Linked DNA regions of Homo sapiens: region 2 is reported to be linked to region 1. Evidence: microRNA targets listed by miRTarBase, many of them from high-throughput screens and not tested one by one. Region 1 holds a microRNA gene; the other region holds the end of a gene's coding sequence.
What was found. Region 1 holds the annotated microRNA hsa-miR-142-5p (CAUAAAGUAGAAAGCACUACU, at 1,280-1,300, opposite strand). A microRNA usually pairs through its seed, bases 2 to 8, with sites in the 3' UTR of a target mRNA and lowers its output. Matches are read on the target gene's strand: a 7mer-m8 pairs with bases 2 to 8, a 7mer-A1 pairs with bases 2 to 7 and ends in A, and an 8mer does both.

Region 1 (4,067 bases):
TGGGAGGCTATCATTGCATGAGTTTATAAATTACAACACATCATGATATATATAGATATGGATGCTACTATATGGCACAATGTAGTAATTGATTACACAATATATGACATGCTCATATCGTCATGTAAATATGCATAATGACATGGTTTGATTTATATATATATATCACCATGTATCTATGTATTCTATATTTATCATGATATATGAACATGTCTCTATCTATGTATGTGTATGGAGCCACCGTGTTTATTATGCAAATGTCACTGTATGTGTGTGCTCTTCTATGTGTAAGACACGCCCTATGTTTCTATCATTGCATGTGTGTACTACTGAATATGTATGTGCCCTGGGTGTGTGTAATCCCTGTGTGTGTCATGCCAGTCATGTCACATGTGTCTGTGTGTGTGTTACTGGCACACTGAATGGGGCCTCTGTGTGTAAATGCATTTGCATCTCAGTGTGTGCTTTGTATATGAGTGTCTGTGCCCTTGTCTAAGATGCTGTGTATGTGCCACAGTGGATTTTGCCCAATTTTTATATGACCTAGGACCCCCTAGACTTTCTTAGATTAAAACTGGATGTAGGCAGCTTTCAGTTTGGGTATGTAGGGGGGCAGGATAGGGCCAGAGCTAGGGTAGAAGGTGAGAGGATGCCTTACATCCCTGCCCCTTTCTGCAGATGGCCCAGGCCCTTCTCTCCTCCGGCTGTGGCCTGGCCAGGCCCAGAGCCCTCTTCTGATCTCATAGGCAGGGCCAAACCCGTATCTTCTGGAGGAGCGACAGAGGTTCTCCCTCCCAGCCCTTCTGTGCGCCCATACTGTCCATGTGCCTGCCGCCCGCATTCAGCTCCCCACCCCAGCAACAGAGTCTCAGACAAAAGAGAAGCACAGTCCAGTCTTTATTAGCATTGGGTCCCTGGTCCCACCACCCATTCCCCTCCACGTACCATCCCTTCCCACCCCTTCCTCGTCCTTGACGCTGCGGCTGCATCAGGGTTCCACATGTCCAGCCCTCCCCGCCCCCAAAGACTGCAGGGCAGCAGAGGAGCTGCTGTGGCCTTTCCCCAGCTGTCCGGAACCAGGAAGGGCAGGAAAGCCATGGAGGCCTTTCAGGCATCTGGGCAGGGTAGGGAGGGGCCGTAAGGTGCTCACCTGTCACACGAGGTCCCCGAGCGCCGAGGAAGATGGTGGCGGGCAGCGGGCGGCAGCAGTGGCGTGATCTCCGAAGCCCACAGTACACTCATCCATAAAGTAGGAAACACTACACCCTCCAGTGCTGTTAGTAGTGCTTTCTACTTTATGGGTGACTGCACTGTCTGTCTGTCCGTCGGCGTGTACTCTTCAGGCTGCCCAGGCCTCCTGACTCCTGCTCCAAGAGCCCCCCAGCCCTCCTTGTGGCTTCCTAAGATCCCCCCAACCCTGCCAGGGCCCCCCGAGGGCCCGCCCTGGGCCTTGTGGGCGGTGACTCAGCATGGCGCCAGACTTGCCTCCTCTACCTCCCTCCCCCACTTCCTCTTCAGTTCCCTCTTCCCTTCCCCCTAAAGGCTCCACCCCATCCCCCCAGTTTCAGAGACACTCAGGTAGAGACTAGGGCCTCTGGAGGCCTCACCTTCAGTTCTGTGAACCCCTGGCTGGCCGCTTCCAGCCACGCTAGCCACCCTCCAGCGTCCAAATGAGGCAGCCACAGCTCCCCTGCCAAGGTCTTGGTCTCCAGTCCACCCCAACCGTGAGGTCCTGACTGCCCAGAGCCTCAGTCCCCACCCTTCAGCCTCCCCACCAGCCCAAGATCCTGACCCCCCAGGGCCTAAGTCCCCAGCCTCCCCAACAGCCCAGGGTCCTGACCCCCCAGGGCCTCAGGCCCTGGCCTCCCCACCAGCCCAAGGTCTTGAACACACCAGGGCCTCAATTCCCAGCCTCCCCACCAGCTCAAGGTCCTGACTCCCCCAGAGCCTCAGTCCCAGCCTCCATAGCAGCCCAAGGTCCTGACCCCCCAGGGCCTCAGTCCCCAGCCACTCCACCAGCCCCAAAGTCCTGACTCCCCAGAGCCTTGATTCTCGGCCTCCCCACCAGCCCAAAGTCCTGACTCCCTCACTGCCCTGCTGTTCCCCTGGCAGGAGCCCAAGGCTATCCCAACAAAAATGGTGGCCATGTTGGGCGGAGGAAGAGGCTGGCGCCCCTTGAGACACTGGTCCCACTTCTCAGCCTCTGCGTACCCTCTGCCATCCCCGCCTTACTCTCCAGCCCTCCTCCTTGGACACCTCTTTCCCCGCCTGGGGTCCCGGAGCCATTTTACCTTCCTTCACTAGAGAGGGTTTCAAGGCGCTTTGCCCTGAGCTTCCCGCATGGGGCTTGCACCCAAGCTCCTCGACACCCCCAACGCGCCTCCACCCAGACCAGCAGCCCAAGCCCCTAGAGGCCCCGAGCTGAGGAGCCCCAGTTGGGGCAGCAGTGAAGGTCCGGATCCTTACCTGAGGCTGCAGGGCGGAGGAGAGCTCGCCCTGTGCTCCAGGCTCCGAAGTGGGGTTCCCTTCAGGGAGGGCAGGGCTTATAACCCCGAGGCCACGTGGGCCAGATCTCAGGGCGCCCAACGGTCTCAGAGCGCGCCCCGCCCCCGCCCGCAGGGGATGAGCGCCCTCCCTCCCTCCCTCCCTGGGGAGGACAGACTGACAGGAAACAGAAGGGGGTGGGCCCGCGGGAGGGCTGGGGACCCTCTCTCATGCCCTGGGCAGGTGGCTTCCGGCCCCAGCTGCCCTTCCCCCCGTGGCACCAGCTCCAAGGGATGGCTCAAGAGCCTGGGACTGACTCAGGGCATTGAGGGTGACCCCAGAAGACCAGGGCTCCTCGACAGGGCCCTCGGTGAGTGCCCAAAACGGGGAGTCCAGAATTCCAGCACAAGAAAAGGACCTTCTCTCTGAGCCCCACCGCTGCTGACCTCAGCCCAGAAAACTCCCTTCCCTTCCCAACACTCAGGCCAGGCCCTGGCTCCTCTGCGTGTGCTCCCGAGGGCCATGGAGGTGCTGATGCATGAAGGGCGTCCATGGAGACTGTTGTCCTCAGCACCCCACAAAGCCACCCCTCCTGCAGCCTCAGCCTGCAGGGCACAGTGCGGGGGACACTCTCAGGCCCGGTGGACTGATGGCACTAGGCTAGGTGTTCACGCTCTCTTTGGGACCTGTGGGGACAAGAGGGCAGGGCAGAGCTGGGTGAGGATCAGGTCCTAAGGTGGGGCACAGGTGCTATGCGGAGAGAAGGGGGCTTGGAGGAGTGGCGGGAAAGAGGCTCGAGGGAAGGTTCTGGCGGCCACCGGATGTGGGCATGGGGCCCACCCACCTGCATGCCACCCCCGATTTCCCCATGGGGAAGGCAGGAAGCTGCCCAGCCCAGGGCCCCTGGCTGGGGGAGGGGAGTAGGGTGTGGGGGTGGGCAGGGGACAGCGTCGGCTGAGCCCAGCCCATACCATCTTCCCCCAGCGTTCTCCAAGCCTCTCCATGGGCTTGGCTCTGGAAGCAAGAGGAATGGGTTTGGGGAGGTAGGAGCGGTAGAGAGAAAACCACCCAGTGACTCCTTCCCAGAAGGCCATGGACCTCTTCTCTGGGTCCTCCGTTTAGGCCCACACAGACCTTAGGGAGCTGTCAGATTCAGGGCCTAGAAGAGGACTGGCATGGGGGCAGTGGGGAGGGAGATGGCCCCACATCCTTCCCTCCAGGAAGGGGGTCCTTCAACCTGGAAAGTTGCCCCATTCCCAGGTCCCTAAAATGGGACAGAGAAAGGGGGAATGGGGCCTTTCACCCCCTTGAGTCTAAAGAGAAAGTGGTGAGGAGGGTTGCCTTGCAGGGCCAGCTGGCCAGAAATGGGGCGATACTCCTTTAAGAGACCACCGCTGCCTCTGACCTGGGTGGAGGGGAAGTGGCTGCCCCAGGCGATAAGAGGATAAGAATATCAAAGTTGTGCAGTAACCTGGGTTCCTGGACCCCCATTCTTCAGGGCTCCTCCCCTGAGAGCATCTTACCTCCTACTCCTGCTTATGATGCCTCCATAGCCCTCACTTCAGAGGCGTCCTGTCCCCACA
Region 2 (4,067 bases), not on the chromosome of region 1:
GCTTTGCTCTTTCCCTTCACAGGCATGGATCCCTGAGAGTTATACATAAAAATCTCTTGTACTTCAAACCCCTTTCAACGCCAGCTTCTGCAGAACCCTATCTGCGACCTTAGGTTTATTCAGCTAATAAAATGTTTCTATTGCTACACTAGAACTAAAAGGCTCTGGCTATCTAGTGATGAACAAAATAGTCATGGTCTCTGAACTCATGGGGGTTATCACCTAGTAGGGGTGGCAGATGTTAAATAAAAATGAAAAATAATAAAAACCTATTTTTACTAAGTGCCATTAGGGTCTGTGGAAAAAAACCACCCCCTACCCCAATACTGACAAGTCTATCAGCTGGCATATATGTAAAGTACTGTTTTCTTAAGATTTTGAGAATATGGATAACTACTTAGAAGTTACTCTATCAAAATAATACAATTGTTGATATAACAATTTTGTTGACTTTATTTAATCCTTTCAAATCTGCAATGTTAAAGAATCATCCAGTTACTTATGAATGTCCTTATCAAGCTAGATCACTGGTAAAATGAGACTGCAATGTGGACTTTTGAAATGAGTAAGGCAAATGTAGACTCTAACTAGTAGAGATCTGCCAGCATCCACCCTTCTAAGAACACCTCAGTTTCCTGTGGTGAACGGCCTCCTCCAGGACTCCTTTAGGTTCATGTGGTATATGGGAGGAGCATCACCTACATTTAAGTAACCAGGAACAGTATTTTCCATCCCCTAGCTATAGTGGCTGGTTCAGGAATGTGCACATAATCCAAGGCAGACCAGTAACAGTGAGCTCCTGGACTTTAGCTGTAACTATTAGGCAAGAGTATCTCATGCCAGTGGGATCAGAAAGCTAGCAGATTATAAGCCTTGAGCTTCTAGCGGCCATCATTCTGTGTGAGAATGAAACCGACTCAGAGTAATACTGACAACAGCAAAGGAAAGCACTACTATTATATTCTATTTACTATGTGTCAGGCATTGTTTTAAGAGCTTTATATACACTAAACATGTAATCCTTACAATGAACAGATGTGCAGAGATGTGGCACATTGCCCTAGGTTATACACAAGTGGGATTTGAATTCTAGCGGAATCTGTGTCCCTCATGCCATGTACACTCATCAAAAAAATGAGAGCCAAAGGATAAAGCCTGTCTCAAAGAGAACCATCTGAGCACCTACATCCAGACTGGGCCTGCAGTGTGCAGCTGGACTCTTCACTTAATGAACTCAGATTCAACATTGCATTATTCACAACAGAAAGTGAAAAGAACCTAAATGCTCTATGATGGTGGTTAAATAATAATAGGAATAGGAATATGATGGCATATACATAGCATTTTAAAAATATATTATGGCTGGGTGCAGTGGCTCATGCCTGTAATCCCACAACTTTGGGAGGCCAGGGTAGGAGGACTGCTTGAGCCCAGAAGTTCAAGACCAGCCTGGGCAACAAAGTGAGACCTCATCTCTACAAAAATTAGCCAGGCATGGTGGTATGGGCCTGTGGTCCCAGCAACTTGGGAGGCTCAGATGGGAGGATCGCTTGAGCCCTGGGAGGGAAAGGCTGCGGTTAGCCATGATCACACCACTGCACTCCAACCTGGGTGACTGGGTGAGGCCCTTTCTCACCAAAAACAAACAAACAAACAAAAAACAAAGACGTTTGTATATATTTTTATTTTTTTAGAAACGAACTCAAACTCCTGGGCTCAGCCTCCCTAAGTAGGGAGCCTGGGATTACAGGCATGAGCCATTGTGCTCAGCCCTAAAATAGTTTTGAAGAATATTTATACATAGGAAAAAATGCTATTTTTTATGCATTATAATAATTTTGTAAATAAGAAATGTACGTGCAACAAATCTACAAATATAGTAAAATATAGTGATGATCTCTCTCAAAAAATTGTGGGAAAGTTGATTTTATATTTTTTCCTGAATTGTTGGTGTTTTCTACAATAATGTTTTAAAATTACAGAAGGCAAAAGAAGGCAAATTCTTAAGATGTAAAATACTCTTAACTCAAACTACAAAACTTCTTCAGTATCTTACACTAAATTGAACCTAAATTAAACTTACAGTTCATTCAATCACAGAATGTAAACTCCATGAAGGTAACTTGATTTTTCCTGCTTAATATACTGTTGTGCCTCTAATGGCTACATCAGTACCTGGCACCTGAGTACTTGTTCAATGAAAGGTGAAGAGAAAAATGAACTGGCAGTGTATTTCCATCATACTAGCAAGATGTTTATTTAAAAACATTTAAAAACTGTTTTTTAAAAAACATTCTAGTTAAGACGAGATAATTCAATGTTCAAGCTAATAATTCTATACCATTTTAAGAGTCTGAATTTACTTTTAAGTAAAAAAAGGCAGAGAAAAAGAGTGAAGGATACAGAATTATCTTGATTATGCACTGCTGTTACTATTCCCATGCTAAAGACCCCTTTTGTTTCAATAAAACTATCAATATTTACTGAGAATGACAGCTCTGAATCAAAGGCAAGAGAAAGAGACCTGTAAATAGTGCTGTTCATACTAGTTGCCCCCAGTAGTTCCCAGGCCTCACTTCCAAGCTGCCTTAAGTAATTTTTACTTTCTGAATATAAAGCCAACTGTGGAGGGGTCAGACAGCTGAGGACTGAACTTCTTAAAAATTGGCTTCAGAGAAAAGCATAACATTACAACTGAGGCGGCCAAGCACAGTGGCTCACGTCTGTAATCTCAGCACTTTGGGAGGCTGACGCAGGTGGATCACCAGATCAGGAGATAGAGACCATCCTGGCTAACACAGTGAACCCCATCTCTACTAAAAATACAAAAATTACCCGGGCATGGTGGCATGCACCTGCAGTGCCAGCTACTCGGGAGGCTGAGGCAGGAGAATTGCTTGAACCCGGGAGGCGGACGTTGCAGTGAGCAGAGATCGCGCCACTGCACTCCAGCCTGGGTGACAGAGCAGGACACCGTCTCAGAAAAAAAAAAAAAAGTTACAACTGAGGCATCAGGTCTTAAGGTTTAAAACAGTCTCATAATTGTCACATTATCATATTATGTCAACTCTGAAAATAAATGCACACTCATCCCAGAGTCTCCAAAATCTTTATCTTTAGAATCCAACCTTGTTTTAAGAAGTAGTAAAATGAAGGAGCATTGTTAGTAGTCACCTGACAAAAGCTGTCCATTATTCTTGACATTAAAAATTGAATGCAATGATTTAAAAAACATAATACATTAACATTTACATAATATATTTAGAATCACATGGTTTCCAGTGATTAGATTTCAGTCATGCCTGGAAAGGAGAAGACAGTGGCTAGGAGCACATTCCTTATAAAGGATACATAAATGGTATACTTAGGATGACTAATATTAAGAATTTAAACACGGTGCATTTTTTTCCTCAAAGGAAGCAATTTTAGTTTCTAAAGAGCATTTACTTCTGACATCTCGATTCCTGATTTCAGTGGCTGCAGACTGTGTACTTCTGTGCCACACTTAGGACAAGTAAAGTACACGTCAAATAAGAAACTACTCTTAGCACAGAAATAACAGAAAATATGCTCACATCCTATGGTGTGAGGCATGGTGGGCCACTCTCCACATAGAGCGCATTCTTTGCCACTGGTGGCTAATGTATTGTCACTATTAGGTGCACCAGTAAGAGGAATACACCATGAAGACAGCTTGGCTTTCAACTTCTGGACATTGATAAGTGGTAAGAGAAAAATCAGAAATTCAGCAAAACCATGCCAGAGAAGTTCCCTATTCATGTATTCAAAGCCAACTTCACATATGTTTTGAGGCTTGCAAAATACAGAATGAATACCTAGGAGACGTTCTGTCAAAGTTGCAAACTTTCCCCTCTGAAGGAAAATCAAAAAATTAATCAGCCCACCTAATTTCAAAAGTCCAATCACAAAATTCACACACTGCTTGACTTTCCCAAATGATGCTAAATGATGGTTTCGAAACAAATCATAGCATCGTTCTTCTAACCACCTGCCACCAATTGTACAAACAGCATACCAGATTTTTTGATTTTTACTGGGTGGCTGAT

Region 2: miRTarBase lists PEX2 as a target of hsa-miR-142-5p. Seed matches in the 3' UTR shown: 7mer-A1 at 3,340-3,346 and 7mer-A1 at 2,612-2,618.

What each region holds. Positions count from the first base shown.
Region 1 is chr17:58,330,004-58,334,070 of GRCh38, forward strand. MIR142 (microRNA 142) reads right to left here and starts at 1,315; the gene lies at 1,229-1,315. All of the region lies in intron 2 of TSPOAP1-AS1 (TSPOAP1, SUPT4H1 and RNF43 antisense RNA 1), which reads left to right. It overlaps MIR142HG (MIR142 host genes), which reads right to left and starts at 2,517. Exons shown (of 1, transcript NR_186557.1): 1 at 885-2,517. RefSeq lists enhancers at 1,405-1,544, 2,345-2,414, 2,915-2,984, 3,575-3,664 and a silencer at 2,525-2,834.
Region 2 is chr8:76,979,829-76,983,895 of GRCh38, forward strand. PEX2 (peroxisomal biogenesis factor 2) reads right to left here. Exons shown (of 4, transcript NM_000318.3): 4 at 430-4,067. The coding sequence ends at 3,433. Among named protein-coding and RNA genes, the nearest start is that of MIR3149, 15 kb to the left of the region's middle.